Homo sapiens: one gene and its partners. The protein of the gene in region 1 purifies or fractionates together with the protein of each later gene. This does not show direct contact. Each region holds a gene or a part of one and is shown on either strand. Other genes may lie near its edges.

Region 1 (3,500 bases):
TGGTAGTGGCAGGAGACATGTTTGGACCAATATGGATTGGGCAGGGCAGGGGTGGGCGAAAAGGAGTTGAGTCGATTTTGGAAACGTTGAACTTGAGGTGAAGGCTCTACTATCTATTCTTATAAGGGCTCCAACAAATACTTCTTGTTTCTGAACATCTGCACTTGCCAGGGACCTTGGACCTCTTTGCTTCCATGAAAGTACATTTTCTAAAACCTGCTTTCTCCAGGAACCCTTTCCAGATTAATTTTACTTGACTGCATTCAGACTTTTCACTTCTGATCATTCAACAGCTCTCCATCTGTTTTTTAATTTTTTTGTTCTTATACTGATTTTGCACACTTCTATGTTAGCATTAGGTTTGGCATGAGTAACAGAAATACCTAAACTAACAGTTTAAAACAAGATAGAAATACATTGCTCTGTCATGCGAACAAGCTGGACATAGGGAGTCAAGCATCAGAGTGAAGGCTCTATAAATACCAGGACCTGGGTTCCTTCTGTCTCACTACCCAGCTGTGAGAGGCTCATTTCCAAGGTCACCCTATGGTCCAGTATGAGGCTGGAGTGCCAGCTATTCTATCTTCATTATAGCTCCCATGTCTGCATTCTAGTTATCAAGAATGATGACTTGATAAAGGGCATTCTCTCTTTCTTTAAAAACACTTGCCCAGGGCCAGGCGCGGTGACTCACGCCTGTAATCCCAGCACTTTGCGAGGCTGAGGTGGGCGGGTCATGAGGTCAGAAGTTCAAGACCAGCCTGAACAATATGGTGAAACCCCGTCTCTAATAAAAATACAAAAATTAGCCGGGCATGGTGGCACACGCCTGTAGTCCCAGCTACTGGGGAGGCTGAGGCAGGAGAATCGCTTGAACCTGGGAGGCAGAGGTTGTGGTGCGCCAAGATCGTGCCACTGCACTCCAGCCTGGGTGACAGAGCAAGACTCCATCTCAAACAAAACAAAACAAAAACACTTGCCCATAATCTACAATGATTTCAAAATAAAAGTTTAAACAACAAAAACAACAATTCCCCTAAGTTGCACACATCATTTTCTACTTATATCTAACTGGCTAGACTTAGTCACATGGTCACCTAAACCAACAGGAAACTGGTAAATAGTCTTCATTTTGGGGAACTGTGCGCTCAGTTAAATTCAGAGAATTACTGACAAATAGTTAAATGGACATTTCTAGACAACTGGAAGTTTCTGCCACAGTCCCTATAGTGTATTATGTACACAGCAGCCAGTGACCTTTTCAAAATACAAATCAGATCACATCACAGCCTTGCTTAAAATCTTCCAGTAGAGTCCCATTATAGTTAGAACAACTCTGTGCCCCTTACTCTGACTTCGGAGGTACTATGTGACCTGGAGCCTGCGTGTCTCTCTGGCCTTCCGAGCGCTCTCTACTAGAACACAGGCCGCCTTCCCATCACTCAAAACACATCAAGCTAATTCTTGCCTCAGGAACCAGCTGTGCCTTCGGCCTAGAATCTCTTTGGCTGATTCCTTCCTGTTGTTCAGGTCTTGTGAGGCTTTCCCAATTTCTAAATAAGCGCTACATTTTCTCCTTCATTTTGCTTTACTTCATTATTATATTACCTGGTATTTTGAGTCTTGTTGGTTGTCTGTCTCTTCTCACTAGAAAGAAGGGCCTTGTCTGTCTGATTCACTGATGCATCTCCACAGCCTAAAAGACTGTCTGGCCTCAACAGTATTCAATACAGACACGATGAACACATGGGGGTGACTGAGCGCGACTCCAGTGCATCTTCTTTGTAACCGCAAACACATAGCACAGTAACTGACAGGCACACATCTTGGATGAACAAACAGTAGCCACACATGTGACCTTGCTTTTTTAAATGCGAGCACAAATCAGGGGATGGGAAAAGAACTGAGATTCCCCCCCACCCTCCTGAGATACCCTGCCACCACTGTTATTTTCCTCAAGCTGGCTCAATTTACCTTTGTTAGTAATTAAGTGTGTCTCTTTCTACATCTTCCTGTGTTAAGCAACTCAGTGGTAAACATAAAGCTTTTAAAATCCAACACAGAGAACCACCTACCTGGTCTCTCTGCTCATTACCATTTCCTATAATGACAGCAGAACAGAGTTCAATTAGAGTCCACATACTATTTGACATGGCAGTCACTTGTTTTTGATAAACTATGTTCCAAAGAACAAAAAAAGTACCCAAATTTAATCAAACTCAATCATACTTTACTAGTTAAGAACAAAGATGGATGGTGAACTTTGGGATCACTCCAGCCTACATATGCTAATGACATGCCAATCACTTTAGTAAGAAAGAGTAACTCTATAGCAGAAGTGCTTTCTCTTTCCTGCAGAATGTGACAAACTCCTCCTTAGTCGAGCTGATCTGAGATGGCGCTTTTGTAAGCTGTATTTTAATTACACATCAGTCCTCCTGACTGTACAGTGACTACCATCACCTTCTAACATGATCAGGTCATATTTGAAAGACTACTTGGTATCTTCTAGTGCTGTAATTTCCAATGTTACTCCAGGCATATTTAAACCAACATGTCTTAATGTCATTTTGATTAGAAAGGACTGAACTTTCAGATTAGTATACCCTGTAATTTTGGAAGCAATATAACAAACCCGTTGAAGTGTCAGTTCTTGGAGCCACCCTGGTGTTTGAGGTGACTGAGAGGGCAAGGCCTCCCACCAATCACAGCAACTCTGTTCTGTTGTCCTTTTTCCTTTTTTTTTCAAGTGCTTCCTCACAAAAGTTCCTCTGAAGTTTGGAAACCATTGGATTAGACCACCTCTTAAGATGCTCCTTTCCAACTCAAAGATCATAATAATTTCAATCTCCAGTGCCTCAGGGAGACGTATTTCTAAGTATAAATAATTATTCTACAGGAGCGTAAGTTGAAAAATGATAGGAGATTGTGCTGGATGGGTGGTACCCCAAGAGAAGGAGGTAGTCTATTGTTTTAAAATTTCAGATATGAACTTTATTTCTAGTCTATCATTTTTCTATCTTTTCTAAAAAGGACTGAAAATGGCTTTGATTTCAACTTGTTTTGTCATGCAGGGTTTTTCCTAAATAGTGATTTTAATTTCAAAATGAAAGATAAACCAGATTGCAGTTGAGGATTTACTACAAAAAAACCATTATTTAATAAGACTTTTCAATTGACAGTGTTAAAACAGTTTTTCCCAACCCCTGGAAGGAAAAGCCAAAAAGTTGATTTTTAATAAGGCTTTAGTATTAAAGGACAAGTTTTTCAGTACCACACTTATTTCTGTATAACTAGTTTATAGTCCTGGGTGAAATGTAAGAATGAAAAACGAGTTAATACTTGCACCGTCTCAGACAAGATTTTTAAATACAGTGCCAAGGAATATTTTTGCTGTTACATTACAAATTTAACCAGTTTCTACAGCTTGAAATATTGCTGAGTCGAACAGATTCTCCTGAAGCAAGTGTGCAGAATAAGAACAAAAAATGGATTTATAA
Region 2 (4,122 bases), on another chromosome or scaffold:
GCCCAGGAAACCAGACCGGCTCTGCCCCAGCTCGGGGTGTGTGTGGGGCGGGGTGGCCGCTGTGCGTGTACGCGTAGGGGGCATCCTGTTTGCTTTGGTGGCTTGGCAGCCACTGGGCTATTGAGGAATGTCTCTCGGCTGCTGGCGGGGCCGTCTGGGCCTGTCTGGGAAGTGGAAGCCATCGGCAGTCTGAAACATGACCACATTCCACCCAGCGGGCCTGGCGGGACCCTGGGACCCAGGGCCGGGCTTGGGGTGGTGGGCAGGGCAGGGTGGGGCTGTGGGGTGGGGCACATGGCCCACCTGAGGAGCCACATCTTGGGGAGCCTGGAGTGGGAAGGGGGCTGGCTGGGGTCTCTGTAAGAGCCTCTTCTTGGGCAATGTCCTTTAGGTTTCCTGTGGGCTGAGACCTGAGATAAATACCCGTCACCTGACCCTGAGGTCTCTTGGGGTACAGAAGGGTGAGGGGAGTGGAAGGGGGCATCCCCCTCTCAGTTGGCACAGCCCACCATTTCCCCATCCTATAGCTGAGCCCCTGTTTGCCCACCCCAGCCTGGAGTGTAAACCTGGGGAAAGGTTTACACGAAGAGACTGGGTTAGCAAGGATTTCTAGGGATGGGGCAGGGTCAGAAGCTGACTGGATGGAACTGTAGCCCCTAGAGTGCATTCCTGGGTGTCAGGCTCTGCAGAAGGGGCCAGTGTGGACACGGCACCCCTCTGGAGCCCCAATTTCTTTATCTGTGATGTGGGTTGGTCTCCGAGGCTTGATGGCATTTCTATGCTGTGAGGTGGGCCTGGTGGGTTTGGGCTCAGTTTCCAAGGCAGGATAGGCTCTCGGTCTCCTCTTTCTCTTCAGCACCCAGCCCCGGGGCCAGCACCGTGGGTGGAGCAGTGTGGGGTGAAAGACAGCAACTTTGGCGGGGGGGTCAGCTGACACTGCAACCCATTTCCCCACCAGACAGGGTTGAGGCGGGCCAGGCTGGGGTGGTGGCTGCCTGGGAGGGCCTGGGGACGGTGACGTCCTGCCTTCTCCTCTTCTCCGTATTAGGTCATGGGAAAGCATAGCTGGAGGGCCCGCCTGAATCACAGGTGACGGGCCTGAGACCAGAGGCACGCACACGCACGGCACTCAGCACGAGGATTTGGAGAAATGAGGCAAATTCCTGATGATGGGCGGGGAGGGGGCCCCCAGCCACCTGGGAGCTGGCAGGTGGCCAGTGGTGATGAAAGCCCAGGGGAATGGAAACAGAGGAGCAAGCCTGTTGTAATCGCTACGCCCACTTGGTGGCCTATAAAGGAAGCGGGCGAACCCCGGCAGCCCTACACAACTTGGGGCCCCTCTCCTCTCCAGCCCTTCTCCTGTGTGCCTGCCTCCTGCCGCCGCCACCATGACCACCTCCATCCGCCAGTTCACCTCCTCCAGCTCCATCAAGGGCTCCTCCGGCCTGGGGGGCGGCTCGTCCCGCACCTCCTGCCGGCTGTCTGGCGGCCTGGGTGCCGGCTCCTGCAGGCTGGGATCTGCTGGCGGCCTGGGCAGCACCCTCGGGGGTAGCAGCTACTCCAGCTGCTACAGCTTTGGCTCTGGTGGTGGCTATGGCAGCAGCTTTGGGGGTGTTGATGGGCTGCTGGCTGGAGGTGAGAAGGCCACCATGCAGAACCTCAATGACCGCCTGGCCTCCTACCTGGACAAGGTGCGTGCCCTGGAGGAGGCCAACACTGAGCTGGAGGTGAAGATCCGTGACTGGTACCAGAGGCAGGCCCCGGGGCCCGCCCGTGACTACAGCCAGTACTACAGGACAATTGAGGAGCTGCAGAACAAGGTAGGGCCTGCTGGTGGGAGGGGTCTCCGGGGGGCATGACTTCTTCCCCCCAACTCCTGCCTTGGCCAAAGGCCTGGAGTCCAGCCATAGGGTCTCAGGGAGCCAAGGGTGGTTTGGCTGTGGCTTAGCTTCTGGGAACCTGCCTTGGGGCCCCTGTGTGGCTCACATCCCCCTTTTCTGGGGACAGCAAGCTGAGTCAGGAACAAAGAGGCCTTGTGGAGCCCCTTGGAGCCTCAGTTTCTCCCTCGTGGAGCTCCGCCACCTGGAGAGGTTGTAGGATGAGGCAGGAGGATGCAGATGGAGGGCTGGGCCCGTGGGCTGCTGGATGTGTGGTGTCTTGCTCCTTTGGAGCAGGGGTCAACAGGAGGGGGTTTTGGGTGATGTGGAGTGGGGGTGTCTGAGTGAGCTCCTGATAGCACCTGCTGCAGGAGGAGGCAGAAAGGAGGGGGCGGGACCTCAGTGTGGGGAAGGCCTCTGATGTGCCTTATTTGGGGATTTTTCTGGCTTCTCCTTTCCTCCTGCTGTCCCTTAAGACGGGCTCAGCAAACCCCAGGGGGCGGGGCTGCTGGCTGGCGCCCAGGGTTAGGGATTAGGAGGGGTCCTGACTTTTGATTTGGAACCACTCTTTAATGAGGGCTCCTTTAGCCTCCTTTTGGGGGAGCCTGTCAGGGGCACCCTCTAGCTGACTGTAAAACGAGGGGGTTGCCCACATCCCCTCCCTTGTTCTAGAATTCTGGGACAGCTTCTGCCCTGGGGACATTTTCCCATTCTTTTCTGGTTGCCTCATACTCCCAGCCAGCTGTCTCTTCTCCTTTAAGGCCGAGCCTGCCATGGGGGTCTGGTGGGGTACTGAGTATCGGGGGAAGAAGAGGCACCTTTCAGCCCTTCAGACTCCTGTTTGCCCCTCCTCTGCCAATAATACAGCACGGGGCAAGGGAGGGGCTGGGCGAGAAGAGAGGCCCTGAGGCAGGAAGATCTGCTCAGAACCCTGGTGTGGGCTCAGCCACCCCCATCCAATGACCTGACTACTCTCCCTTCTCCTCAGATCCTCACAGCCACCGTGGACAATGCCAACATCCTGCTACAGATTGACAATGCCCGTCTGGCTGCTGATGACTTCCGCACCAAGTGAGTCCTAGCTGTGGCCTTGGGCAGCCTGGGCCAGCTGGCGGAGGATCTCAGGGTACCCCTCCTGACCCCAGGATTCCTTGGTTGCTTGTGGCAAGGCCCAGGAGCTCAGGGTGGGGCAGTCCTAGGAGCCCCACTCCTTAGTCCAGGATGCAGTGAAGGCAGCCAGTTCTGAAGGTTGCTGAGCTTAGGCAGGGAATAGAAGAGAAGGAGGGGAGGCGGGAGGCGGGAGGCAGAGAGAAGTAAGGAAGCTGGTGGGCGTGGGATCTGGCCCTGTGATGGTCCCGGGGTCCCGGGGCTGGAATTCGTTTCCACTCGACCCTCTCATCAGCCCTTCCAACTCCTTAGAGTCCTGGCAAAATGAAGGCAGGTGAGCAGCCAGGACCTGGATCTGCAGGTCCAAGCAGCCTGGGCTGAAGTCTCTGATTCCCACGGCAGGTTTGAGACAGAGCAGGCCCTGCGCCTGAGTGTGGAGGCCGACATCAATGGCCTGCGCAGGGTGCTGGATGAGCTGACCCTGGCCAGAGCCGACCTGGAGATGCAGATTGAGAACCTCAAGGAGGAGCTGGCCTACCTGAAGAAGAACCACGAGGAGGTGAGGTGGCTGGGGCAGAAGGTCAAAGATGCTGAGGAGTGGGTGGCAGAGCCCTGGGGCTGGGCAATGGCTGAGGCCGTGGGAGAGAGCAGAGCAGGTGCACCGGGATTAGTCACCTTAGAGGGCTTCCCTGTCTGCAGAGCCCTGATCCTTGGGGTCCAGTGTGCAGGGCAGACTCCTCTTTGTACCACACTGCTTCTCTGTACACAAGGAACCTCCCAGGGGCCTGCAGAGGCTCCCTCTACCTACCCTGCCTCCCTCATGAGGGTGGGGGATAAGTAAGGAAATCTTGTCCCATTTCAAACTCTCAAAGCTGAACATCTACATAGAAGCTTGGAAATTAGAGGGGAACTTTTGGGGGCATAGGCCTAATAATTAGATTTTATTTTGGAGAGTCCTTGGTCTAATGGGGGAGATAGAGTCTGATGGTGGAGGCAATACTGAGCAGATGAATAAAAATCATTTAGAGGGTCAGATAGAGCAGAGGGAGAACAAAGGAGGGGTCCTTGTGGGAAGTGGGGTCCCCTTGTGGGGGAAGGCTTGGGAGTGAGAGGTCAGGATGGGTCCAGATGCGCACAT
Region 3 (3,500 bases), on another chromosome or scaffold:
ATGAGAGTACTTTTCAAAAAGGAAGACAATTTATTGGAAGAATTTGTAGCTGGAAACACTGTTCATTAAGAAAACATTAAGTTACCCTGAGAAAGACTCTTAATATTACCAGTGTTTTCAGGGCCCCCTGACCAACGCATGGAAGAGCAACTTGTAGGCTCTAGCCTTTTAACAATACCTACATAAAGAATATTTTGATCTAAAATGTAACTTGGGTTCTCTGCCACACTGGTAATAAGTCACAACCAAGACATCTGAATGTGATGGAGTATAAGCAAATTTTGCGTTTATTTTAGGCTGCCCTCTTTCTTTTCTAAGAGAAAGAGTTTGCAGTTCTTCAAATGGTCTTGGATGAAACCTACTGTTTGGAAAAAAGAATCTTCTGTAAGTAAACTGGTAGTTTTCTTAAAACAGTAAACAAATTTATCTGGTCTACATTCTCTAAACTATTATTATATGCCTAGAAAATAAGGCATTAGTAATTCATCATTGACCATTGCAGAGCATAGACAACTGTTTCTTTCTAATCAGGACCATAAGCAAACATTCCTGAAAGTGCAGTGTTATTTTTAACGTCTCTTATGCATTTACAGTAAGCATTTGACTCCCTACATACTTTCATTATAAAATGTTTTTTCCCAACGCCTTATATATACCATAATTACTTAAGAAAAGACAAAGTGAGAGCAGCTACAGAAGTAGCAAGGTATTTTCCACAAATAAAAATACAGCATACAAAAAATGGCAAGTTAGTGATAATTGGTAGTATGAGTGCTTATTAATATCCCGCTTTGGGGTCCAAATTAAGATTTGACAAGTTTGAAGCCTTGTCCTGTGTCCAGCACAGTAGGAAGAAACCAACTCATTTTTAATCTTTTCAAGCACCTAAAACAAGTTTTGCAGATCCAAAAAAGGTTCAGACCGCATAACCAATTTGCCAAATGCACTAGGGGATATGTAATACGAGGAAAGTGTAACATCCAGTGCTTGGCCACATCGCTTCCCGTTGGCAAATGCAGAGTGTAGTCACTCCACCGTTTTGACACACCATATACTGCTTTCACTGTGCGTCCCTTTTCAGTCCAGCAGATGTTATTACTGGAGTTGCAGTTATATTCTACCCAGTCTTTTGTAAAGTCACCTAGCTGTGGCGGGTCAGCTTCTTCAATATCTACTGTTTTTATCAACTCTGCTCCTTGCACTGCAATATACTGGTCATTAATTTTCCTCACTTCTTTCACCCAAGGGGTTGAATTTTCGCTGTCTAATACGATAATAAGCCGGGAACAAAAGGAACCATTCTTTTCTCTCCACCATTCTATAAGTGTGTCAAGGCGTAGTGTATCTCCACCTGTGAACAAGAGAAAATTCAATGGAGCAATAATTTCTGCAGCCTCTCATTAAGAAAACCCTCTTAATCATTTTCTTCTAGAGAGAAAATACTCTTGTTATACATGTATTTTCCTTAAGTTCTTAGAATTAAATAAGCAAAAAAATAAAGTATTTAAATGACACTTTCAAAGTATCTTTTGAAAAGATATTTTTTACAACAGATTTTCAACTTGAGGTAAAAAAAATCCTTATTACTCACATAAAAAGGAATCTGCTAGTATAAAATTAAGGAAATAGTTTTACACAGTTGTATTTAGTGAAAACAACTATACAGAAAAGCTAACATTCTACACCAGGGGCAGCAACTACAACTCATGGGCCAGATCCAGCCTGCCACCTCTTTTTGTATGGCCTGAAAGCTAAGAATTGATTTTATATTTTCACATGGTTGAAAGAAAATCAGAATATTTTGTGATAGTAAAAACTGTATGCAATTTGTTTCATATAATTATTTTCATAAATAAGTTTATTGGAACACAACTACATTCATTCATTTATACCGTCTATGGCTGCTATTGCTCTAAAGTAGCAGAGCTGAATAGCTGCAACAGGCATCTAAACCCACAAAGCCAAAAATATCTGGCCCTTTACAGAAAAAGTTTGCCTCCCCATTCTGTATCATTGTTTCCTTCTCTTCCTCATATGTAGGTACCTATTGAATGAAAATAAACCCTGTTCCTACCTGTACAAGAATGAGTTTAAGAACAGATTTACATTTAAATCAGTTTTATAGCTGAAGAACAAGGGATTAAAAAAATATATATACCCAGAAAGTTCTAAAGTAAATAAACTTCTGACTACAGGTTTTACATCTCGTTATTTTTTTGCATTAATTTTGATTTTTAAGTATACTACATTAAAATATTCATTTTGATTATTGAGTTTTTTGGCATTCCCTTATGTTTTGTGCCTGAGGCAACTGCCACCCTCACCTCATCTGGCCCTGTCTCAATGGTACACTGATAACGATCATTCCAATTCTACGAATCTATCTTAAGGAAAGAACAGACATAGGGACAAAAAATTACAAAAAAAGACGACCTTCCCATTTGGGAAATGGAAATGAACTATGGCCTAAAACCTTAGGAGGAAATCTTATAACAAAATATTTATAAAGAAAATTTATTGATGAGAAAATGTCTATATTAGAAAAAGCATGACAGTACATCTACAAAAATTATAACAGCAGCTATTGCTGGGTGTTTCACTTCCATGTGGTTTTTAAAATATTTTTCTGACAGTTTTACATTGAGCATAAGTTACTTTTACAATTTACCAGCACAAGACCCAACATTTTCCCCAAATCAACTGTCCTCTTGGTTTCACCATTAAAAATGGACACCACCAGAGAGAGAATCCTTTAGAATTGGGATTCTATCATATTCTTTATGTGTCATTTATTAATGTTTTATTAATCAGTAAGCTTAAGAACCTGAAAATAAACTTTTTTTATTAATCGCTCTAACACTCACACATATTATCTCAGAGACACTATTTCAGTACATTGTCTCCACATATTACTAATGTGTTATTCCACTGATACCTCCAAAAGATACTTTTTCAAAAATGGCCAAATGTTAACTCTCCATTATTGTCAGCTCTATTAAATTTCTCTAGAGATCAGAAGATGACACAGATTACAAGAACTATTATGTAAATTCCATCTGCCACAAAACATCATTGCCCAACATGCCATCCACAACTATTTCAATAAACATTCTTGAGCATATTCTACCCTAATTCTCTTATATAAATGCTCTTTAGATATCAACGAGACCTAAAGCAGCATTAAAGCTTTCTAAACAATTTCTCTTGTTTTGCTCTGCTTTCTCCTATGAATAGGTTCTATGCTACATTTGGCTTTTGGCCCAGATTCAAAGTACTTACATTTATCTAAGCTAATATCCATCTGATGCATTTTAAGTAATTGAGACTGCTTTTTAAAGGTTTTATTTGTAATAAACTGCTTTATAAATTATCTACATTTTTTCCATTTATTTCTGTCTCTCCTGTAATTACCATAATTGTTTTCTATCCTCAAGCAGAGGCAAAAATATTAGGTTCCATATCATGAAACTCCATAAATATAAGAAGACTACATATTCTAA
Region 4 (2,179 bases), on another chromosome or scaffold:
GGGTGAGCAGTGCCCTCACGCCTGCCATCCCGAACTGGGCATATGCTTCTCCTCAGATCCGCGTTCCAGCCTTCCTGGACCTGTTCATGCAGTCACTCTTTAAACCAGGGGCTCGGATCAACCAGGACCACAAGCACAAATACATCCACATCTTGGCGTACGCAGCAAGCGTGGTTGAGACCTGGAAGAAGGTACCATCGGTTCTGGGAATTTGTGGATTTTTTAGGAGACAAATATCCTCCTCTGCTTTGATATTATTTTGGAATTTTGGCTGCAAGAAATCTTGACCCTCCCTAGTATCAGGCATGTGTTTTCTTGTGTTTCTGCGTAGAGAAAGCACTAAACGTCTCCAGAAAATGTGCGTAATGTCTCCAATGCTCTGCAAACCGTAAATTGAAATGTGACTAAAGAAATGAAACTGATTTCCGTAAGACATGGACAAACACTAGTCTCATTGCTTTTCAGTTTCTGTACACTGTGTGACTGTGAAGTTTGACAGCTGAATTGACTCCCAACTTAAGTAGAAATAGGGAAAGTGCTTTGCAAGAAGTGGCCGACACCAGAACACCCCGACAGCAGGGATATCTGCCCTGTCAGGCTCACCAGCTTGTGTGTGTGTTTTCAGAACAAGCGAGTGAGCATCAATAAAGATGAGCTGAAGTCAACGTCAAAAGCTGTCGAAACCGTTCACAATTTGTGTTGCAACGAGAACAAAGGGGCCTCTGAACTAGTGGCAGAATTGAGCACACTTTATCAGTGTATTAGGTAAGCAAAACGAAACTCAGTTCTTAAATCAGTCCTTTGGGGAGGAGGTCGTTTGAGTTTTCATATTGAAAGCTCAAATAACAAAAGCTTCAGCGATACTTGTTCATTTTATTTATTTTTTCATTTTTAAACAGTATGTAGGGAACTTTAAACAGCTTTAGCAGCATGAGTAATTTTCAGATGTTTATTTGCCAGAAGTCTGTTGAGTACAAATTAGGCTAAGTAAAAGATAGCCAGAGTTAACAAAAATTGATTTGAAGGGTCTATTTATAGGTAAAGTTATGCCCACAAAGTATTGCTTACATAGAAATGATTTGTGATTATGCCAATCATATAAATAGACGTGTCCTAGAAATAGTGTGTCCTCTTAGGCATGTCTTTCCCCTAATAATTTATACTAGGGATGAAGAAAGAGTTTGCTAAATAAAGGTAAACTTCAACCCAGTCCACCAAACTCACTGAGTATCACTCATTAATGATCTTTTCCTTTCGATAAGTGGTTTAAAGTGAGCAGAGAATTGAACTCTGCTTCTTGCACCGCATGTTGAGTGGCTGCTGATCCATTCACACTATTTACTAATAAGCAGAGCTTACGCCAGGCACAGTGGCTCTGGCCTGGAATCCCAGCAATCTGGGAGGCCAAGGCAAGAAAATAGTTTGAGCCCAGGAGTTTGAGACCAGTCTGAGCAACATGGTGGACCCTCTCTCTACAAAAAATTAGCTAGACATGGTGGCACTCACCTGTAGTCCCAGGTACTCGGGAGGCTGCAGTGAGCCATGATTGTGTCATTGTACTCCAGCCTGGAAGACAGAGTGAGACCCTGTCTCAAAAAAAAAAAAAAAAAAGGGTTGGGGGGCGTATTGAAGGGTGAATGATGGAGTCATTTGAGTTTGTTTTTAACTTTCCTTTAATGCTTTTCTAGCATATTTTGTGTTTTAAATTGTTTTTTAAAGGAAGCATTCTGCCTTAACTGTAGGTTTCCAGTGGTAGCAATGGGTGTGCTGAAGTGGGTGGATTGGACTGTATCAGAACCAAGGTACTTTCAGCTGCAGACTGACCATACCCCTGTCCACCTGGCGTTGCTGGATGAGGTAAGAGGGCGGAGAGCTGTTCACAGCCTACACAGTGTCTGTCTCATGCTGTTTACGTTGGCATTAACATTGCATCTATTCAGTGAGTTTAGAGGATACTCTTCTCAAAAATAGTTATTTCTGTCCTGAGGATTTTCCTCTTAAGGACCTAGCTTCATTGACTGCAGAAATTTCTTAACCTCAGTCAAGTGTTACTGGAAGCTGATGGCCCTGGCTTAGGTGTCAGGACCTTCTTCCACAGTGATAAGCTCTTTGGTGGCTGTGACAGTGCCCAGTTTCTCTGTGTGCTGAGCGTGACCACACTGCTCAGCGAAGCTCCCTC
Region 5 (3,500 bases), on another chromosome or scaffold:
CTATTATAGGGATAGTGGTACCTATGTTATTGACCATTGTCTTAATGGTCATCCGCTCCATTTTATTTTACAGGCGAGGAAATTAAGGCTCAGAGTGGAGCTAGTGCTTGACAAAAGTCACCTCATTAGTAACAGAACTTGGTACTTTGCCTCCATGACACACCCAATCTATGATATTTAAATGTTCTCCCATACTAATACTGTGTGATTAGGTGTCTATGTGTGTCTGTGCCATTTAGCTCAATAAATTATAATCTGACTACAAAATTAAACACTAAATTTACTATTCTCAGCTGTCAAGTAAATCCATTGAGGCTCTAATGGGAGTATGGAAGCCCAGCTACAGAAAGCTAAACTGGGCATCCCCAAAATGGCTCAAGTAGTCTATTTTAATGGGAGTCTGTCCTTGTGGAGAAATGCCAGAGCTACAGTCTTTGCTCTTGCTAACCTATTTGGCCAGGGAGCACAGGGTGGATTGTAGGTGGGTATTAAGAAAAAACAGAGGCACTAGTAAATATTTCTGGAGCCAATAAGCCTACAAAAAGCCAAAGACAGTACTGGTGAGCATCATGACCTTAGAAAACAATGTGCCAAGCGACTAGAGCACACATTTCCAAAATGACTTATGGTTCTTGCTAGACTCTCCGGTTCTGGTGGCAATATGATGGTACAGCTCTTAGCAACAGTTGTTGCCTGCAGGGGCATCATCTGGGAGCATTCTCAGCGTCCGTCTTCCCCACAGAGAGGAACTTTCTTGTATTTGATTAGATTTGCTCTCCTGCAGGCTTCATGTCAAAAAGGCCTCTGGCCTATGGGATTACTTGTAAATATGCAAGTCTACGTATTTACATACGTTAAAAGCCCTGATATTTTCAAATAATTGATTTCCCTTCAAGGAAATGCTGACCTACTTGTTCTCTAAATCACAATCCAGCCTAGGGACAGGCAGACGTGCCTGAAGCACTGTAAAGAACACTTTGCCAACGGTTGGGGTCTTCTCAACAACACACTCTACTGTGTCATCCTATTTCAGCAAAAAGAGGAAAAAGAGCTAATGACCTACTGCACACCTGTCTGGGGTGGTCGCCCTGAACATTCATCCCCCTTCTGAACTAAGTCAGCCTTCAGAACTGAGACTCCAAGCCTGGGTAGTTTCAGCTGTTTTAAACTAAAAAAAAAAAAAAAAAAAAAAAAAAAAAGCCCTGGAAAGAATTTGTCCAAGCCAAAAACTTAACTATTTGTTGTACTGAAATTAAACGGACAGGCAACTGCAGAGTCTCTTTTTTCTAGCTTACTTGGGTTCAGTCAAACTAAAAATACATTGTTACTTACCTTGCTGCATCTAGAATCTGAAAAATCCTCCACCTGTTAAAGGAACAGTAAAACCAGTCGCTAGCAAGAGCTTGGTAGGAGAGGAGATAAAATAATAAAAGTTTTCCATTGTGCTTTAAGAGCATATTTCTCCAGCTTCCCAAACCTTAGGGAAACAGCTCATAGATGGCTTCTCCACTTTGTTCCCCACTGGCTCCTCTCAAGTAATGGGGAGATTCCCAATCAGAAGGCTAAAAGGGGCAAGGCTGCACTGAGAGCCAGATCCCTGGAGTGCTGTGGTCTGGGAATGATGGATCTACCACTCACTCATGCTAATTCCATTCCCCTTCACAGAGAGCAATGGGAATCTAGGTAAAAAAACAAAAGCCAATAAAACAAAACCCAAACCAAACCCAACCCTGTGGCATCACTGAAATGGAAATGACTGATTGAAAGGTCCTAGGAGGAATTGGCAGGGATTTTTCATATTATCAGGAATATACGAAACACAAATAACAAAAGGAAAATAAAGAACAATTAAACTTTACTGATGCTCTTTAAAAAGATGAAAATTCAAAGCACACATAAGGTGATATATAAATCATCTCTCTAGTCCCTTCCACCCAAACACAAGACATCCATCAAAGTAAGCAATGTCTCCCCATTCAAAAAACATGCTCAGCTGTTTTTATAATGTATGTCTTAAGGGTCACAAAACACTCATTCCACTGTGTGAATTACTGATATTATTAGCAGGCGGAGACTGTGAAGTTATACACAGGTCAGTTGCTAATTTGAGGGTTCAAATGGGCTCAGTTAGCCTTTTGTTTTTTATTATGCCAGAACAAGGAATTTTACAATGTAGCAACACTTCTTTTATGCCCGAAGTGGGCTATATAGCCTGTGCATTTTCTTGGGAGAAATGTTTCTTTACAGCAAATACGCTTTGCAGGCCTTAGAAGTGAGTTAAGAGAGCCTTTTTTAATAGCATGGCTAGCAGCAGAGCCTTTGAATCATCATTTGAGAAGCAATACATGGCTCTTTTATTATCAGTCTCTGGTGCGGTTAAGCCCCCTTTCCCTGTTTCTGAGCTGTTAAGACTGCTGGGGAAGCAAATGTCATGAGAAACAAAAGCGATATACTTGGTGAGGCCTAACATCAAATCTGTTAGACAAGACACTCCTATTAGTGGACTTACCATCCAGAGCCCAATGTGCTCGTCTTCTACTCCAGCCGCAAGAAATAAGTAATCTACAATGTACTGACCTACCCCATGATTTAGAGTCCCTACACAGTGAAGAGAGGCTATGATCCCTTCCACAAAATTTGGCCTTGTGAACAAAAACAACACAACTTTGGGTGAAAAGACAAAACACACACACACACACACACACACACACAAGAAAATATTTTTAGAAGGAAAACATAAAGCCATATATTGATTCCTAGGATCAGAAAATTCCAAAGTTAAGTATGCAGCAGTTTCCAAAGCCATAATTTTTATTTCACTGTACTAACAGAAATTCTCAAATGATGTTAAGTGTATAAATAATTGATTTATATGGGAACGGGATCAAATTTAACTTTAATCACTATTATTGTCTCTTGAGTTTTTTTATTTCTAGGTAAACTTCTTGACTGCCTTATAAAATTTGCCTGGTGATTGCACTGAGAAGACTTTTGGAAGCTCATTGCCTTACCTGGGAGCCCAGGTGGGAAGAGGTGGAGTATTGAGTGACGATCCATGAAGACGTTACAGGTGCATCAATCAAAAGGGTGGCCAGTCATCAGAAGTGAGCCAAAGTTCATAGGGAAAAGGTAAAACAAAAGATACATACTAATTAGAAGAGAATGAATTAATTTTAAGAACCCATTTTATGCATACACACACACACTCTCTTTGGGAAGGTTGTTTAATGAAATCCTTTAAAAAGGCCCTTTAATCATGATGTTTTATTAAAAAATATTTATTATCTATTATGTGCTAGCCATTGTTAGAGGTACTGAGGTTAGAGGTACTGAGTAGTGAATAAAACAGACAAAAATCCCTGACTCTACAGAGTTTACAATCTTGTGGAATATTTTTAGGCCATCTGCTTGGAAAAGAGTTCTACAGAAATATACTGTATATTATCAATTCTAGGAAAGAGTTTCTCCCTGTTTTATTTATGCCTTTGTTTATGTATGGA
Region 6 (3,500 bases), on another chromosome or scaffold:
GTTGTCTAGGCTGGTCTCAAACTCCTGGGCTCAAGAGATCCTCCTGCCTTGGCCTCCCAAAGTGCTAGGATTACAGGCTTGAGCCAACGAACTCAGCTTGACACTTTTGATTTTTAACAAATGCATCTTTTCTTGGGGTATTCTCCTAACTTAAAACATACAGGAACTTATAGAGATTAAAACAGTAAACCGTCAAAAAATTAACCATCCAGCCTGGGCAACACAGTGAGAGGTTGTCTCTATAAAAAAAAAAAAGAGGACAATTGCTTGTGCCCAGGAGGTCGAGGTGGCAGTGAGCCATGATCACACCACGACACTCCTGCCTGGGTGAAAGAACAAGACCTGCCTCAAACAAAAACAAAACAAAAAACCCATCACCATTACATAATAATTACTACATATCCATATTACCATATATCCGCACTTACTTTCCTCTTTAAAAAGTTTGGTGGATGTATTCAATTTCCAAAAACAGAAAAAGGCTTTTCCTTTTTTTTTTAGTTGTCATGATCGTTATTATCTTTGTTGTTGTTATTATTATTATTAGAGACGATGTCTCACTATGTTGCCCAGGCTGGTCACGAACTCCTGAGCTCAAGTGATCCGCCTCGACCTCCCAATGTGCTAGGATTACAGGCATAAGACACCATACCCAGCCAAAAGGCATTTCTATAAGAATTTTTTAAATCTGGGAATTCACTAAGATCTCAATCTCGGCACAATTATCCTTACCTTTCTTTCTTCAGTTGACAATACTCTAAATCGAATCATTCCTTCTTTTATTATGTCTGCTTCATCTGAAAAGTCAGGATTGTCAGACAAAATATTACTTCTATTTTCTTCTAACCACATCTGGAACCCGGTCTTTGGCCTAAAATCACAATTATGTGAAAACATTTTATACTTAAGACAGAGTTTAAAGTGCCTCATGATTTTAAGTTAGTAATCAACCATAAGTCTCTGACATCTATTATATAAAGTAAGGAAGACACAGTTACACTTGTTAATTCATGTTACTTTTTTTTTTTTTTTTTTTTTGAGACAGAGTCTCACTCTGTCACCCAGCCTGGAGTGCAATGGCGCGATCTCAGCTCACTGCAACCTCCGCCTCCTGGGTTCAAGCGATTCTCCTGCCTCAGCCTCCCAAGTAGCTGGGATTACAGGCATGCGCCACCACACCTGGCTAATTTTTTGCATGGGGTTTCACCATGTTGGTCAGGCTGGTCTCAAACTCCTGACCTCACGTGATCTGCCCGCCTCGGCTTCCCAAACTGCTGGGATTACAGGCATAAGCCACCGTGCCTGGCCTCATATTACTTTAAACTGCCTGGAGACTGCAGGATCAATGAACTGGAAAATCCTTTGTAAGGTCAATTCAAAAGGATCACTCACGTTTGTATTTTCCAAGTGCAGCAACCATGAACTCTGTACTTTCAACTTTTTAATGAATGTTGACAGGCTCAAGGTCTCCAACCTCACTTAGCCCTTGTGGCCTACCACATGTCCTTGGTAGGCTCTTTTTCTATTTCCCCAAACCAGCTATTTGAATTCCTCACGACTTTTCTCAAGCCCCTTTGCCATCGCCTCACCCTTGCTCTCAGAGCTGACCTGCATCAGCATTAGGTGAAGCACGGACACAGCACATTTGTACATTTCATTAGATTCCACTCACAATACAAATTGTCTTTAAGTCACACAAGTGAAGGTTTAATGCAAATATTTAACATTTACTGATCACTTACTATCTACCAGGCACTACTCTAAAAGCTTTATGTATAGTACCTCATTTAAATGACAATAACACTATGAGATGGATACAGTTATTATCTCCATTCCATAAGTGAGAAAAGGGAGGCTCAGAGATGTGAAATAACCTATCCCAGGTTACACAAACAGTAAAACTCAGACCTGGGATCCAACAACCAGGCAATTTGACTCCAAAGTCTATGTTTTTTTGTAGAGATGGAGTCTAGCTCTTTCCCCTATGCTGGAGTACAGTGGCTCTGTATTGGCTTACTGCAACCTCCACCTTCCAGGTTCAAGTGATTCTCCTGCCTCAGCCTCCCAAACAGCTGGGACTACAGGTACGCGCCACCACACCCAGCTAATTTTTGTATTTTTAGTAAAGACAGGGTTTCACCATATTGGCCAGGTGGGTCTCGAACTCCTGACCTCATGATCCACTCGCCTCGGCCTCCCAAAGTGCTGGGATTACAGGCGTGAGCCACTGTGCCTGGCCCAGAGTCTCTTATGTTTAACCCAGCAGCTATACGCCCCTCACTAGGCTGAACCTAAATGAATCCTAAATAAAAAGTCTAAACTTTTTAAGGTTAAAAAAATTTTTATTAAAAAATTACTAGTATGACCATAACCATTTGCCCAATTTCTGAAAATATGCAAATTTTAAGTAATCTTAACGTAAACCGATTTCCAGAAAAATAACAGAACAAATCAAAACAAGTAAAAATCAAGGTATAACAAAGGTTCCTGAATTTCCAAAAATTAATGAAGACCCATTTTAATGAAACTTGGGGCAATGTCACAAGTCTACTTAGTGGCCTGCAATCATCTACTTCTAAACAGCTATTTTTAAAAAGAAAACCAAAATTGAACATTTCTTTCTTTGTTTTTTAAAGAGACGTGAGTCTCACTATGTTGCCTAGGCTGGCCTCAAACTTCTGGGCTTAAGCAACCCTTCTGACTCAACCTTCTGAGTGGCTAGGACTACAAGAGTGCACAGCCACCTGGCTAAAACTGGACATTTCTGATTAAGTATATCAACATCTGTGACAAAATATTAGTTTCAATAGTGGTAATTCCTTAAAATTTCAAAAGTAAGTTTTTTGTATAACCAACTGATAGTATGAAAAATTAAATTATCAATCTTCTTTGTTGTTGTTTTAAGAGAAAGGGTCTTGCTTTGTCGCCCAGGCTGGAGTGCAGTGGTATAATCAGCTCACTGCCACCTCAAATTCCTGGGCTCAAGCAATCCTCCTGCCTCAGACTCTCAAGCAGTTGGGACTACAGGCATGTGCCACCACACACACCTGGCTGATTTTAAAACTTTTGGTAGAGATGGGGTCTCCCTACATTGCCCAGGCTGGTTCCAATCTCCTGGGCTGAAGCTAACTGATCATGTTGGCCTTCCAAAGTGTTAGGCTTGGCCAGGTGTGGTGGCTCACACCTGTAACCCCAGCACTTTGGGAAGCCGAGATGGGCAAATCGCTTGAGGCCAAGAGTTTGAGACCAGCCTGGCCAACGTGGCAAACTCCATCTCTACCAAAAAATAACAAAATTAGTGGGCATGGTGGCACACACCTGTAATCCCAGCTACTCAGGAGGCTGAGGCATGAGAATTGCTTGAACCCAGAAGGTGGAGGTTGCAGTGAGCTGAGATTGCACCAGTGGACTCCAGCCTTGGTGACAGGGCAAGACTGTCTCAAAAAAAGTGTTAGGCGGGCCAGGCATGGTGGCTCACACCTGTAATCCCTGCACTTTGG
Region 7 (3,500 bases), on another chromosome or scaffold:
TCTGAAATCAGAAACAATCAGAAGTTTAGGTTTGCAAACTATCCTCTGGATATCAAATAAGAATTTCACACACAACTCATTCTCATGTTTCACCTTCATTAAAGTGAACCTTTAATGCAAATTCACCTTTTATTCTACAAAATTTATCATGTATTAGGAAATGAGGCTTAATTTTATAGACATGCAAATCAATAACTTAAGTATATATGTATATTTATATTGTACAGAAATTGCCTCTCTCTTCAAAAAACTTTTTAAACTTTTAAATATTAAGCATGGTGAAAGCAGCTACTCACATGAACTACTTAACCACTTATAAAGTTCACAGGACATTAGATGAATGGCTTTCTTTAACCATGCAATTTATAACTTATTTGACACTATATTCTACCTAATCATTAAAAAAAAATAGAAAACTGGAAACCAAAAGAATGAAAAAGTTGTATATTCCCTAAACTAATTAAACTATTTAATTTTTTCAGATCAATTTATACCCCCCTTTTTGTCTAAATTTTGAGAACTTGACATTTTCAGAAATGTTAAATCATTGAAGAAAAATACTAGACACACACAAGTTTTAAGCTAGACAAGAAAAGATTTTACACTGAATTTTATAATAGCATTCATATAAAATTGATTGGAACTACAAGATATAAAAGCAAAATTTTAAAAAGTCAGAAAGTAAAAAAGCACGCCAACATTTATCCACTGTGAACCGTAGCTTGTAGTTAGCCAGGGCAATTCTGTCCATTCTTCAGAGACACTCTGCAAAATAACCAGAGCCCTATTATTTGAGATTGAGTAAAAACCCAGCCATGATAGCTAAAACTCCATACCTCAAAAAATTGGACTCAAATTGTGCTTCACAGGCAATCTGCTTTTAAGTTAGTCAGGTATGTCACAATGCTTGCTCTCTCAGGACACATGAACAAAACAGGCACTTTTATAACAAAAACCCAAGTCAGAAAGCCATGCAATGTAATTTTCTATTAAAGTATACATAAGCATATTTTAGATCAATCTGAGTGATTTATTAAGTGTTCAGGGTCAAAATGACAAAGACGTGGTGGTGAAAAGGGAAAATTAATGTAAGTCAATGTTCAATATGCAAAAATACTTAATAAATTATCTGTATGGTACGCATGCATTTAATCTGGTAGCTGACTCTCTTCTACGCTGTAATTTGTTAGTCTACCCTAAACTCAAGGAATAGGAAGAGTTTATAGGCTGTATATAAGGGAAAATACCATATTTTTTATACTACATGCTTTTACAGACCACTGTTTATTACACATCTATAAATCAAGCACTGATATTTGCACTTTTTAGAGAATATCATGAGAACCCTTCAACATACAGTTATCAACTTATCTCCTTTAACAACAACAAAAAATCAGGAAAATATGCTACTGACTGCCAAATGATTCCTTTAAATGCAGGAAAGCTAATTCCTTATATAGCCTAAAACTCAAACATTATACATTATCTCAATTGAAAATCATAAAACTTAAAGGTCTTACCAAGAAAAAAAAAGTATACACCAATAATCATGGGACCATAAGAAAATCTACAGACTAAAAATATGACACAGAAATATATTTAAGAGAAAAAAATATAACCCACGATTTGTAAATCATGAAATTGCTAAAATCTGAAGGTCACTTAACTTAAACTCACCAACTGTTAAACAATCTTTGCCTAATTCCAAACTAAAATTCCCGTGTTTTCAAAAAAACTACCTCAATTAAAATCAAAGCATTTAATAAAATAGCTACTTAATCTGTTCACAATGTTAGAAAATTTTTTCTTCTTAAAGTTTCAGAAAATGTTAGTCTTGAAAAATATTCAACTCATTTATTTCTCTCTGAAAAGATTCTCTGAAGCAGCAGCAAAGATCTAGATCAGGCTTCTTTATCCTTTTATGGTTCTATGACTACTCTGACAATAGGATAAAATTTACAAAGATTTTCCACACCAAAATGAAAACACAAAATTGTGCATAGAGATTTAGAGCCCTTGAGAGGCCAAAGGCTAAGACTGTCTAAGTCCAGATATTCGAAAGCAAGCTAATTATTATTGAAACTCTAAGATATTATTAAGAAGGACAATCAAGAAATGAAAGCTGTACTTATTTTCCTGATCAGGTCTCACAAAGAAAAATGTCATCTGAAAGAAGTCCATTTATAAGCCCTAATTCTGTGACCACCTTTAAAGTTGGTAATTCCTTGGTCACATCCCCTAATCAAGGAACGATAACTCTTCAAACGAAAGCTCCTAAAATTCACCAATACTACTGGCATTTACTTTCCAGTCTCCTCATCTCATCTCTGCTGTTGGTCTGTTCAAACCAAACCACAGCTAGCACTTCCTTTTTACTATTCTTCTAGGTGGAAAAATAACAGAGCAAGCAGAAACCCTGAAGAAGTTTTCTAAGCTAATTACTCTACAGAAAGTACTGTAAACAACTTGTTATTCTTACTCTAATATGGCATGCTTTTCAAAATTTTAAAGTTCTTCTATGATGAATGCTATCTCAAGTAAGGTATTTATTCATAAGGGCCTAAAATGTATGACTAATAACAAGTGCAAGCAAGGCAGTGCTTCATAAAATATTATTAAGGCACTATTATTGTTAGCAGTTTTTTTAAAAGGGTGTAAATATCTAGAAAATAATATTCAATAACTGCTTTTTAAGTTGAATTGTTAAGGTTTCTTTTTGTTAAAATATATTAACACAAAATGCATGGTATCATAGAAGTACCCAACAGATCTAAATTCCTTAGTTACAGCACAATTTTACTAAAGATTGTCACCAAGCTAGCTTGATACCTATATAAGAAAGTAAAACATGTACAATGGCAAATTTGTCTCTTAAGAGCTATGCTAATTGAAAAAGGATTTTAAGATAATTGAAAACCAAAGGTTTATTCATCAATGGGAAAACAATCTTTTGCTGTTAACTTCTTGAATGATCTCTAAACAATGTAATACATTATATTCAAGTTATAAAATTAATGTACAAAATTCACAACAGAATTATTTTCAAGTTATGTCTACATATAATTGTTTCTAATTAAAAGGATTTTATTTATCTTCTGTTACTTACGATATTCTTCCAAATGGTGCAAAAGCAGCTTTTATATCTTCAGTTGTAATTTCTGGGCTGAGATCACCAACAAAGACATGGAAATGATCTTATAAGGGGAAGGAAGGGGAAGTGAAAAGAAAAATAGAACTTTAGAATTTAAAAAGTACTAAAATCTATCCAATAAAGTATTCTTAAAATGATTATGGCTTATGATAAAGTATAAATAAAACACTATCCTATATCTATACAAATCCTACCAATTTTAAACAATGAATCAAGGTAACAATATAGGAAAAATTCTCCTGAAACGACTGTGATACATCTAACTGTAAAGTGACATTTATATTTCTATTTACAGTCAATTATTACACTGGTCTAAGAAAATAAACTAATAACATACAAGTTTCAGTTC

The links.
Region 2: the proteins of NETO2 (region 1) and KRT17 purify together in Homo sapiens (affinity purification with mass spectrometry; one large-scale study listed by BioGRID and IntAct). This does not show direct contact.
Region 3: the proteins of NETO2 (region 1) and TMEM168 purify together in Homo sapiens (affinity purification with mass spectrometry; one large-scale study listed by BioGRID and IntAct). This does not show direct contact.
Region 4: the proteins of NETO2 (region 1) and NELFCD purify together in Homo sapiens (affinity purification with mass spectrometry; one large-scale study listed by BioGRID and IntAct). This does not show direct contact.
Region 5: the proteins of NETO2 (region 1) and HS6ST2 purify together in Homo sapiens (affinity purification with mass spectrometry; one large-scale study listed by BioGRID and IntAct). This does not show direct contact.
Region 6: the proteins of NETO2 (region 1) and WDHD1 purify together in Homo sapiens (affinity purification with mass spectrometry; one large-scale study listed by BioGRID and IntAct). This does not show direct contact.
Region 7: the proteins of NETO2 (region 1) and TIA1 purify together in Homo sapiens (affinity purification with mass spectrometry, with the first as the bait; one large-scale study listed by BioGRID). This does not show direct contact.

The regions. Positions count from the first base shown.
Region 1 is NC_000016.10:47,137,446-47,140,945, forward strand, and holds part of NETO2 (neuropilin and tolloid-like protein 2 isoform 1 precursor), read right to left. Parts: intron 1-3,500. UniProt on the Homo sapiens protein: Accessory subunit of neuronal kainate-sensitive glutamate receptors, GRIK2 and GRIK3.
Region 2 is NC_000017.11:41,621,776-41,625,897, reverse strand, and holds the start of KRT17 (keratin, type I cytoskeletal 17), read left to right. Parts: upstream 1-1,322; 5' UTR 1,323-1,388; coding exon 1,389-1,820; intron 1,821-2,865; coding exon 2,866-2,948; intron 2,949-3,386; coding exon 3,387-3,543; intron 3,544-4,122. UniProt on the Homo sapiens protein: Type I keratin involved in the formation and maintenance of various skin appendages, specifically in determining shape and orientation of hair. Required for the correct growth of hair follicles, in particular for the persistence of the anagen (growth) state.
Region 3 is NC_000007.14:112,766,394-112,769,893, forward strand, and holds part of TMEM168 (transmembrane protein 168), read right to left. Parts: intron 1,352-3,500; coding exon 804-1,351; 3' UTR 1-803. UniProt on the Homo sapiens protein: Plays a key role in maintaining the cardiac electrical stability by modulating cell surface expression of SCN5A. May play a role in the modulation of anxiety behavior by regulating GABAergic neuronal system in the nucleus accumbens.
Region 4 is NC_000020.11:58,991,256-58,993,434, forward strand, and holds part of NELFCD (negative elongation factor C/D), read left to right. Parts: intron 1-56; coding exon 57-191; intron 192-625; coding exon 626-765; intron 766-1,742; coding exon 1,743-1,857; intron 1,858-2,179. UniProt on the Homo sapiens protein: Essential component of the NELF complex, a complex that negatively regulates the elongation of transcription by RNA polymerase II.
Region 5 is NC_000023.11:132,707,130-132,710,629, forward strand, and holds part of HS6ST2 (heparan-sulfate 6-O-sulfotransferase 2), read right to left. Parts: intron 1,366-3,500; coding exon 1,333-1,365; intron 1-1,332. UniProt on the Homo sapiens protein: 6-O-sulfation enzyme which catalyzes the transfer of sulfate from 3'-phosphoadenosine 5'-phosphosulfate (PAPS) to position 6 of the N-sulfoglucosamine residue (GlcNS) of heparan sulfate.
Region 6 is NC_000014.9:54,943,600-54,947,099, forward strand, and holds part of WDHD1 (WD repeat and HMG-box DNA-binding protein 1), read right to left. Parts: intron 872-3,500; coding exon 733-871; intron 1-732. UniProt on the Homo sapiens protein: Core replisome component that acts as a replication initiation factor. Binds directly to the CMG complex and functions as a hub to recruit additional proteins to the replication fork.
Region 7 is NC_000002.12:70,224,629-70,228,128, forward strand, and holds part of TIA1 (cytotoxic granule associated RNA binding protein TIA1), read right to left. Parts: exon of another isoform or gene 3,195-3,500; coding exon 3,107-3,194; exon of another isoform or gene 766-3,106; coding exon of another isoform or gene 729-765; exon of another isoform or gene 100-728; coding exon of another isoform or gene 2-99; coding exon 1-1. UniProt on the Homo sapiens protein: RNA-binding protein involved in the regulation of alternative pre-RNA splicing and mRNA translation by binding to uridine-rich (U-rich) RNA sequences.